Homo sapiens: one gene and its partner. The protein of the gene in region 1 interacts with the protein of each later gene in a biochemical or structural test. Each region holds a gene or a part of one and is shown in the gene's direction. Other genes may lie near its edges.

Region 1 (5,523 bases):
ATAGTAAGTGCTCAATAAATACTAGCTATTTTATATATGTGTGTGTGTATTTTATATATATATATATATATATATATATATATATATATGTATACACACACTATAAATTCTGTTCCTTGTACCCTCTTTGTTTATTTAGAGACAGGGTCTCACTCTCACCCAGGCTGGAGTGCAGTGGTGCAATCTTGGCTCACTGCAATCTCCACCTCCTGGGCTCAAGTGATCCCCCTACCTTAGCCTCCCAAGTACCTGGGACTACAGGCACATGCCACCATGCCTGGCTAATTTTTGTAGAGACAGGGTCTTGCTCTGTTTCCCAGGCTGGTCTCGAATTCCTGGGCTCAAGCGATCTGCCTGCCTCTGCCTCCCAAAGTGCTGGGGTTATAGGTGGGAGCCGCCGCACCCAGCCCCTTATACCCTATTTAATAATCCAGTTTGTCCTGCAGTCCCCTGCACCATACTCTGCTTTTTTCCCAGTAATAGTATCATCTAAGATAATGCAATTGGCCACTTGCACTCCCTTTTACCACCCTCTACTTTTATTCTTTCTTTTCTTTCTTTTTTTTTTTTTTTTTTTCAGAGACAGGGTCTCATTCTGTCACTCAGGCTGCAGTGCAGTCATAGCTCACTGCAGCCTCAAACTCCTGGGTTCAAGAGATCCTACCACCTTAGCCTCCTGAGTAGCTGGGACTATAGGTGTACACTACCATGCTTGGCTCATTTTAAAATTTTTTGTAGAGGCCAGGCGTGGTGGCTCATGCCTGTAATCCTAGCACTTTGGGAGGCCGAGGCAGGCGGATCACGAGGTCAGGAGTTCAAGACCATCCTGGCCAACACAGTGAAACCCTGTCTCTACTAAAAATACAAAAATTAGCTGGGCGTGGTGGCGCGTGCCTGTAATCCCAGCTACTCGGGAGACTGAGGCAGGAGAATTGCTTGAACCGGGACCTGGGAGGCAGAGGCTGCAGTGAGCCAAGATTGCGCCACTGCACTCCAGCCTGGGCTACAGAGCAAGACTCCGTCTCAAAAAAAAAAAGTTTTTTGTAGAGATAAGATCTTCCTATGTTGCCCAGGCTTCTACTTTCATTCTCCAACATAGCTTATCTGCCTATTTTTATTGCTTGTTGTCTGTCTCCCTCCAGGACAAGGATTTTGTCCTTCTCTTCAGAGGTATTCCCAGCACCTACAACAGTGCCTGGCACATAGTAGCTGCACGATACATATTAGCTACTATAGTAAAGTCTACCTGACTACCCTATTTAATAGAATATTCCCCATGCTCAATCTGAATTCCTGATTCCCTTTAACCAACTTTTTTTCCTTTTTTTTTTTTTTTGCAATAGTGCTTATTACCTTTAAGACACTCTGTAACATACTATATTTATTATTTATTGTTAGTCTTTCTCTCCACACCTAGATTGTAAGTCTTATGAAAGCAAGGGCTTTTGTAGGCTTTTTTTTTTTTTTTTTTTTTTTTTTGAGACAGAGCCTCACTCTTCACCCAGGCTGGAGTACAAGGGCACAATCTGGGCTTACTGCAACCTCCGCCTCCAGGGTTCAAGCGATTCTTCTGCCTCAGCCTCCCAGGTAGCTGGGACTACAGGCGTGCGCCACCGTGCCCGGCTAATTTTTGTATTTTTAGTAGTGACGGGGTTTCACCATATTGGCCAGGCTAGTCTCGAACTCCTGACCTCGTGATCCGTCCGCCTCGGCCTCCCAAAGTACTGGGATTACAGGAGTGATCCACCGCGCCCGGCTGTAGGGTTTCTTATTCAGGTATTACCAACACCTAGGGAGTTGCCTGGCATACAGTAGGTAATTAATGGAGTATTTGATGAGCGCATGATGCATGGTGTAGTGCCGATGGAAGTGGGGTCAGAAGGCCTCCTGCCGCTGCGGCAGAATTCCCGTGTGGCCTTCTCCCACCAGGGCCTCAGTTTCCCCTCGCAGTTCCGATTCTCTGGCCGGCGCTGGGGTGGAGCCGGCGGGGCCGTCGTGCCGCCCGTGGCCGCTGGGGACGCTGGTGCCCTCCCGCCCCGCCCACTTCCCCGCCGGTCCGCCCCTGGCTAGAGAAGCCGCAGCCCGCAGTGTCCGACCCAGTCGTCCCGCGCCGGAGCCGGCCCCGTAGCGTGCCATGGCCTGCTACATCTACCAGCTGCCCTCCTGGGTGCTGGACGACCTGTGCCGCAACATGGACGCGCTCAGCGAGTGGGACTGGATGGAGTTCGGTGAGTGCGGCCCGGGGAGGGGAGGGGACCAGGGCGACCGGAGCCCCCAGCGATCCCGCCTGGAGCGGCCGCCAAGCTCCCTCGGGCACCCGGGTTCAGCGGGTCCCGATCCGAGGGCGTGCGAGCTGAGCCTCCTGGACCGGGTCCGCCGCGGACCTCGGCCTGTCACCTGAAGGTGCCGCGTGGTCTCTGAGGACGTCTGTCGACGAGCAGGGGCCGCCGCCACTGCGCTCTGAGTCCAGAGAACGGTGGGTACGGGGGCCCTCCTGTCAGCGCTGCTGGCTCGGTGACGTCCCCAGGTGGCCTCTCATCCAGCCCACAACAGCCTGCAAAGTGCGAGCCTCGACCCTGTAGGGACCCACGGTGCTGTCACTTCTTGGGGGGGTGTGTGTGTGTGTGTGTGTGGTGTGTTTAGTTTTAGTGTATATTAGAAGGATCTATGATTTAACATATATATATATATTGAAACGGAGTTTCGCTGTTGTTGCCCAGGCTGGAGTGCAATGGCACGGTCTCGGCTCACTGCAACCTCCACCTCTGGGATTCAAGCGATTTTCCTGCCTCGGCCTCCCGAGTAGCTGGGATTACAGGCGCCCGCTACCACCCTGGCTAATTTTTTGTATTTTCAGTAGAGACCGGGTTTCACCATGTTGGCCAGACTGGTCTTGAACTATTTTTTTTTTTTTTTTTTTTTTTTTTTAAGACGGAGTCTCACTCTGTCGCCCAGGCTGGAGTGCAGTGGCGCGATCTAGGCTCGTTGCAAGCTCCGCCTCCCGGGTTCACGCCATTCTCCTGCCTCAGCCTTCTGAGTAGCTGGGACTACAGGCGCCCGCCACCACGCCCGGCTAACTTTGTATTCTTAGTAGAGACGGGGTTTCACCGTGTTAGCCAGGATGGTCTGGATCTCCTGACCTTGTGATCCGCCCACCCTGGGCCTCCCAAAGTGCTGGGATTACAGGCATGAGCCACCGCGCCCGGCCTCCGGAACTCTTGATCTCAGGCGATCCACCTGCTTCGGCCTCCCAAAGTGCTGGGATTACAGGCGTGAGCCACTGTGCCCAGCCTATTTATCATATTTGTGATTAAATGTACTTTACCATTATAGTTTTAAAATCAGATATTTACTTTTAGTGTACATTGTTTTGATCACAGTATTTATGACTATCAACCTGTTTTGAGATCAGATGTGTCCTAATAGATTCAGTGTGTATAATGGGGCCTAAGCACAAGCACTTACTTTCACTCTATTGCAAGGTGCACAGTTCTAGATAATTCCGTGGGAAGGCACTCAGACAGCCTCCATATGTTTTGTTTGTTGGTGCCTGACGGATGACTGGCGGAGAGGGCCATGGACTCTGCGGGGAGGCCGCTTGCCTGTTGTCTCTGCTTTCCAGGTGGAGATCTGCATTCCAGGCTCTTGCTGTATGACTTTGGGCCAGTTTGTTAACCTCTCTGAGCCTCAGCTTCTGAATCTGTATGTAAACTGGAGATGATAATTATAGCTTCTTCATAAAGTTGTGAGGAATGAAAATACTGTATAAAAGCACTGACACCTAAGTGTTAAATATTCTTATAAGTCATAAGTTGTAATATTCTCTTTTCATTTTTATTTTTTTGAGACAGTCTCATTCTGTGGCCCAGGCTGGAATGCAGTGGCGAGATCTCGGCTCACTGCAGCTTCCGCCTCTTGGATTCAAGTGATTCTCTTGCCTCAGCCTCCCGAGTAGCTGGGATTACAGGCATGTGCCACCACGCCCACTAATTTTTATGTTTTTAGTAGAGATGGGGTTTCGCCATGTTGGCCAGGCTGGTCTCGAACTCCTGACCTCATGTGATTTGGCCGCTTTGGCCTCCCAAAGTGCTGGGATTACAGGCGTGAGCCACTGCTCCTGGACCTGGCTTCACTACTTTGAATGTTTCCTGGGCAGTGAACAAACTTTGTGTGAGACTCCCTCTCATTTTTTCCACATTGGCCCAGCCCTCAGTTACAAATGCCAGAACAACTTCTGTTTCTAGGAAATTCAATTAGAAGGCATACCTATGACTTAAAAAAAAAATAAAGCTTTACTGAGATATTCACATACCATACAATCCACCTGTTTCAGGAGTACAATTTAGTGGTATTTAGTATATTCACAGGGCTGTGTATCCATCTTCACAATCAATCTTAGAACATTTTAATCACCCGAAGAAGAAACTCTGTACCCGTTAACTTCCAATCCCCTCCTTCCATTTTCCTGAGTTTTAGACATTGCCTATTTTGGACATTTCATATAAATGGAATCATATAATATATAGTGCTCTGTGACTGACTTGTTTCAACTAACATGAGGTTCATCCATGTTGTAGCATGCGTCAATACTTAGTTTCTTTTTTTTTTTTTTGAGACGGAGTCTCGCTTTGTCACCCAGGCTGGAGTGCAGTGGCGCAATCTCGGCTCACTGCAAGCTCCACCTCCTGGGTTCATGCCATTCTCCTGCTTCAGCCTCCCTAGCAGCTTGGACTACAGGTGCCTGCCACCATGCCCGGCTAATTTTTTTGTATTTTTAGTAGAGATGGGGTTTCACTGTGTTAGCCAGGATGGTCTTGATCTCCTGACCGTGTAATCCACCTACCTCGGCTTCCCAAAGTGCTGGGATTACAGGCGTGAGCCACCGCGCCCAGCCAGTTTCTTTTTATTGTAGGATAATGTTCCATGGTATGGATATACTACATTTCATTCATTTATCAGTTGTTGGGCATTGGGTTCTTTTCACTTTTGGGCCATTGTGAATAGTGCTGCTGTGAACACTCACATACAAGATTTTGTGCAGTGGTGCAAATGTAGCTCACCGCAGCCCCAACTTCCTGGGCTCAAGCGATCTTCCTGTCTCCTGAGTAGCTGGACTACAGGTGTGCACTGCTGCACCCAGCTAACTTTTGTATTTTTTGTAGAGACAGGTTTCACCATGTTACTCAGGCTGATCTTGAACTCTGGAGCTCAAGCGATCTGCCCATCTCACCTTCCCAAATTGCTGGGATTACAGGTGTGAGCCACTGCATCTGGCTTTATGTTTAACTATTTGAGGAGCTACCAGATGTTTTCTAAAGTGGCTGAACCACCAGTGTATGAGGATGACCATTTCTCCACATCCTTGTCAACATGTGTTATTTTTTTCTTTTTTTAATTTTTTTTTTTTTGAGACAGAGTCTCGCTCTGTCGCTGAGGCTGGAGTGCAGTGGCATGATCTCGGCTCGCTGCAACCTTAGCCTCCTGGGTTCAAGCGATTCTTGTGCCTCAGCCTCCCAAGTAGCT
Region 2 (4,862 bases), on another chromosome or scaffold:
CCTCCACCCCACTCCTCCAGCAACCAGGCCTCCACCCCACTCCACCAGCAACCAGGCCTCCACCCCACTCCACCAGCAACCAGGCCTCCATCCCACTCCTCCAGCAACCAGGCCTCCACCAGCAACCAGGCCTCCACCCCACTCCACCAGCAACCAGGCCTCCACCCCACTCCTCCAGCAACCAGGCCTCCACCCCACTCCACCAGCAGCCAGACCCATGCTCAGGGCCTCATCAGCGACCTTTCACCTGTGGAGCATGGTTTACCCCAGGCCCCTTCGGCCGCTGCAGGTGTGCGGGTGGTTTCGGGATGGCATTGTCCTGCCTGGGCCCATCCTCTCTCTTCCCCTCAGAAGTGGCAGTGGTGGACAGAGGGTCGAGGAGACATAGGATGCAGAGTGGGGAGGTCTTTCGTGGTTGTTTGGAATCGATTTACTTCCTGCGTTCTTCTGGGATACTTTTGAATTTCAGCTGTTTCATGTGGAAACATTTGAAGTATATCAGCAGAGGGTTTTCCAAATCACTTTAGACCTGAGGCTCAGCTTTTGTCTCATTCGTTTGACCAAGTGACCTGCAGTTCAGTGGCCCTGCCTTTAGCTGTGGACAAGGAGAAAGAAGCCGTGGGCACACATGGTGCAAGGGAGACCCTTTAAAATGACCTGAAAACCCACCTGAGCAGGCTTTGAGGACAGGAACCCATTTTTAGCGGCAGAAACCTGCATTTGGGGATCTCCTGAGTGAGGGCTGCACCTGTACCGCTGGGGGCCAGGCCCCAGGCTGGACACCCTTGACCCCTCCGTTTAGAGATGAGGAAACTGAGGCTGAGCACAGTCCAGGACTTGATAAGGACATGGGTGGGGGCGGGGCCGCGGGAATGCCGGGGGCAGCTGCTGTCGGGCTGCTTTGTGCCCCCACCCTGACTCACTGGCCTCTCTGGTCCCCGGCCCCGCAGGTGTACATCGGTGAGCTCCCGCAGGACTTCCTCCGCATCACGCCCACACAGCAGCAGCGGCAGGTCCAGCTGGACGCCCAGGCGGCCCAGCAGCTGCAGTACGGAGGCGCAGTGGGCACCGTGGGCCGACTGAACATCACGGTGGTACAGGTGGGCCTTGGGGCACCCTCCTGCCTGCCTGGGGCTGGTGCGCTCGGTGGGGGTGGGATTTCGGATTTCGGCGTTTATACTGCATTTCCTAAGCGGGCAAACAGAACTTCTGATTCCCGCTTTTCCTGAAACCTGTGTGATGTTGAAAACGATCTGTGTGAAAGATATTGGCATTGACCCCGGGTTCTACCAAACATAACTCAAGTGATGAGTAGTGGGTGTAGGTGGGCGTCTGCTCTGTGTAGGGCCTGGCTCTTCCACCAGGCTTGAGTACGCCCAAGGACACCTCCCGGACCCCCGCCGGCAGCTGGAGGAGGCGCGGCCGGCACCCCCGCCACCTGGTGTGTGCTGCGTGAGTGGCTTCCTGTTGGCCTCAGTGCCGGTGCCTGCACCCTCCCTCCCCACAGAGCAGCCCTCGGTCAGCCTCGGGGCCGGCCCGTGGTTGCTTAGTGGTCTTTCAAGTGAAAGCCAAAATCGGCAGATTGAACGCCGATTTTGATCACACGAAAACCGTCTGTAAGACTGCAGGAAAAGGAAACACACTGTGAGCCACGCAGGCTTTCGTAGAAATGCAGGGAAAGGAGACACACTGTGAGCCACGCAGGCTTTCGTAGAAATGCAGGGAAAGGAGACACACCGTGAGCCACGCGGGCTTTCGTAGAAATGCAGGGAAAGGAGACACACCGTGAGCCACGCGGGCTTTCGTAGAAATGCAGGGAAAGGAGACACACCGTGAGCCACCCGGGCTTTCGTAGAAATGCAGGGAAAGGAGACACACCGTGAGCCACGCGGGCTTTCGTAGAAATGCAGGAAAAGGAGACACACCGTGAGCCACGCGGGCTTTCGTAGAAATGCAGGAAAAGGAGACACACCGTGAGCCACGCGGGCTTTCGTAGAAATGCAGGGAAAGGAGACACACCGTGAGCCACGCGGGCTTTCGTAGAAATGCAGGGAAAGGAGACACACCGTGAGCCACGCGGGCTTTCGTAGAAATGCAGGGAAAGGAGACACACCGTGAGCCACGCGGGCTTTCGTAGAAATGCAGGGAAAGGAGACACACCGTGAGCCACGCGGGCTTTCGTAGAAATGCAGGGAAAGGAGACACACCGTGAGCCACGCGGGCTTTCGTAGAAATGCAGGGAAAGGAGACACACTGTGAGCCACGCGGGCTTTCGTAGAAATGCAGGGAAAGGAGACACACTGTGAGCCACGCGGCTTTCGTAGAAATGCAGGGAAAGGAGACACACTGAGCCATGCGGGCTTTCGTAGAAATGCAGGGAAAGGAGACACACCGTGAGCCACGCGGGCTTTCGTAGAAATGCAGGGAAAGGAGACACACTGTGAGCCACGCGGGCTTTCGTAGAAATGCAGGGAAAGGAGACACACTGTGAGCCACGCGGGCTTTCGTAGAAATGCAGGGAAAGGAGACACACTGTGAGCCACACGGCTTTCATAGAAATGCAGGGAAAGGAGACACACTGAGCCATGCGGGCTTTTGTAGAAATGCAGGGAAAGGAGACACACTGTGAGCCACGCGGGCTTTCGTAGAAATGCAGGGAAAGGAGACACACTGTGAGCCACGCGGCTTTCATAGAAATGCACAAATACAGCAGGCAGAAGAATCGCCGTGGACCTCACAAATAAGACTTGCTTTCAGGGGCTTCATGGTGTGGTGAGCACAGCTACACCGTCACCCCTTCCTCGCGGCGTGTCTCAGACCCTTGCTTGTGCAGCTGTTACTGTGCTGGTGTGGCCGATCCCTCTGCCCACCCAGTGAACTCCCGTAAGCCCATGCATTCCTGTGCCAGCTGCCACCAGGCCAGCCAGTGCCATCACCCGTCCTCAGCCGCCACCTCCTGGCAGGGCCTGGTGACCGCAGGGCACTCCACCTCACACAGTTCAAGCTCCAGAGCTGGCTGGGCCTTGGAGGTGGCCCTGGCGTTGCCCACGCCTCTGGCCCCCCTTGGTCCTCTCCCGCACCCTGGAGCCCACCACAGGCAGCCTGTTTCCTCCACGTGAGCTCACCCAGCCTTCTGTGGCGCAGCTCCAGTGGTGGGAAACATTCCTGCCTCCTCACTGGGCCAGGTAGCTCAGCCCCTGTTTCCTGCTTCTCTTGGCTTCTGGGCGGCCACACAGGTGGTTCCCTGCTTGCGTCCCCTCGCTGCTTCCCCTTGTTGTCTCCTGGGGCCCCAGTGGGATGCCAAGGGGTCTGGTCCTCAGCCCTCCTCCCCTCTCTGCCCACACATCCCGGTGACTTCTGCATCCCTGTGGGTCTAAACACCCATGTGCTGGCCCCAGCCTGAGCCGACCACTCAGCTCCACCCCAGATCCCTAGGTACGGACCATGGCCACATGGCCTCCCCAGGTGTTCCGTGGGCACTCCGGACTCCGTGTGCCCAAGGTGGAGCTCTCGGGCCACCCTCCCGGCTTCTCCCCCGTGTCCGCAGGTGGCTGCCCCACACTCTGGAAGCTGAGGCCCAAAGCCCTCGTGCTGCTGGTGCTCCAGGTTCATGTCCACCTCTTGCCCTTCAGGCCTGACCCTCAGCACAGGCGCCACCTTCAGCCCGTCCAGGCCTGGAGCCCCCCGCACCCACCCACTGCCCCCGCTCAGCCCCTGCAGCGTGGCCAGAGTAGGTCCGTTCCCGCGTGGGCCTTTCTCGTGGGCACTGTCCTGCCGAGCCTGCTCCAGCTGGGCCCATGTTTTCCTCACCCTAGTCACTCCTGACCTTCCTCTTCCCTGGCCGTTCTCCTCCCGCTTCCTGCAGCTCTTCCTCCAGATCCTGCAGCCCGCATACCCGGTCCTCCTAGCTGGTCACTCCCTGCAGTGGTAACGCCGTCTGCTGCGCTGTGTGTCTGCCGCGCATCTCTTGCCCATTGTGGGGAAAGCAGCGGTGCCCGTGTGTCCCCACGGTGTCTGCTGTCTGACGTGCGTCTCTTGCCCGTTGTGGGGGAGGCAGCGGTGCCCGTGTGTCCCCACGGTGTCCACAGTGTCTCCTGCACCAGAACAGCATGTGGTTGTGTGCAGTCATAGTGAATGGGCAGATGCTTCCATAAACATCGAGGAGGTCACTTCAGCAGAGCAGTTGATGTCACAGGACGCTCATCCTAGAGTTTTCTAGCCACAGTGCAGAGGGCAGTGGGAGGAGATGGGAATGAGAGGATGACGCTGAGTGTGGCAGAAGCAGGCAGGATCCAATGTGAGCAGGCATCGGTGACAGGCACGGGCATGCTGGCAGGGGAGTCCCATGTGCCACCCAGAAAGCTGGCTTTGCTCAAAGCCTTTAAAGTTATTAATAAAAATAAGTCATAGCAGCTAGGCAGAGACAGCACAGTTACCTGAAAGCTTTGGAAAATCATGCTGGTCTCAGACTTTCCTGCTACATACTCTCCAGAAAATAGGGCAGTTGCTAAGGAGTTTACAGGGGCAGAGTTTGGAGTGTAAGAGCTGATCTAGCAGATGTGTGGGTGTGCAGCAGAAGGGAATTGGAAGCTGCTAGAGGCTGAGCATGCCTGTCGCCCAGGAGCTTCCGGAAAACTGTCACTCCATAGCATTCCGGAGTACGCTGTGGCCACCCAAGAAACACGCTAAAATTAAGGACCCAAGAATGGGGCAGTTTTGACCTAAAAGGACCGGCCACAGCTTTGATTAGAAGTGAAAGGAGGGAACTTGTATGTGGACAAGAATAGAAAACAGAGGACCTGGCAGTCCAGAGATGTGGGCACAGGAGGGGAGAGTTCAGCTGTGCGGCGAGGGTTGGCGTG

The links. The genes of interacting proteins can lie anywhere in the genome.
Region 2: the proteins of IRAK2 (region 1) and TOLLIP form a complex in vitro, tested with the Homo sapiens proteins (one study listed by BioGRID).

Annotation. Positions count from the first base shown.
Region 1 is NC_000003.12:10,162,821-10,168,343, forward strand, and holds the start of IRAK2 (interleukin-1 receptor-associated kinase-like 2), read left to right. Parts: upstream 1-2,098; 5' UTR 2,099-2,134; coding exon 2,135-2,228; intron 2,229-5,523. UniProt on the Homo sapiens protein: Binds to the IL-1 type I receptor following IL-1 engagement, triggering intracellular signaling cascades leading to transcriptional up-regulation and mRNA stabilization.
Region 2 is NC_000011.10:1,291,883-1,296,744, reverse strand, and holds part of TOLLIP (toll-interacting protein), read left to right. Parts: exon of another isoform or gene 1-217; coding exon of another isoform or gene 218-289; intron 290-950; coding exon 951-1,100; intron 1,101-4,862. UniProt on the Homo sapiens protein: Component of the signaling pathway of IL-1 and Toll-like receptors. Inhibits cell activation by microbial products. Recruits IRAK1 to the IL-1 receptor complex. Inhibits IRAK1 phosphorylation and kinase activity.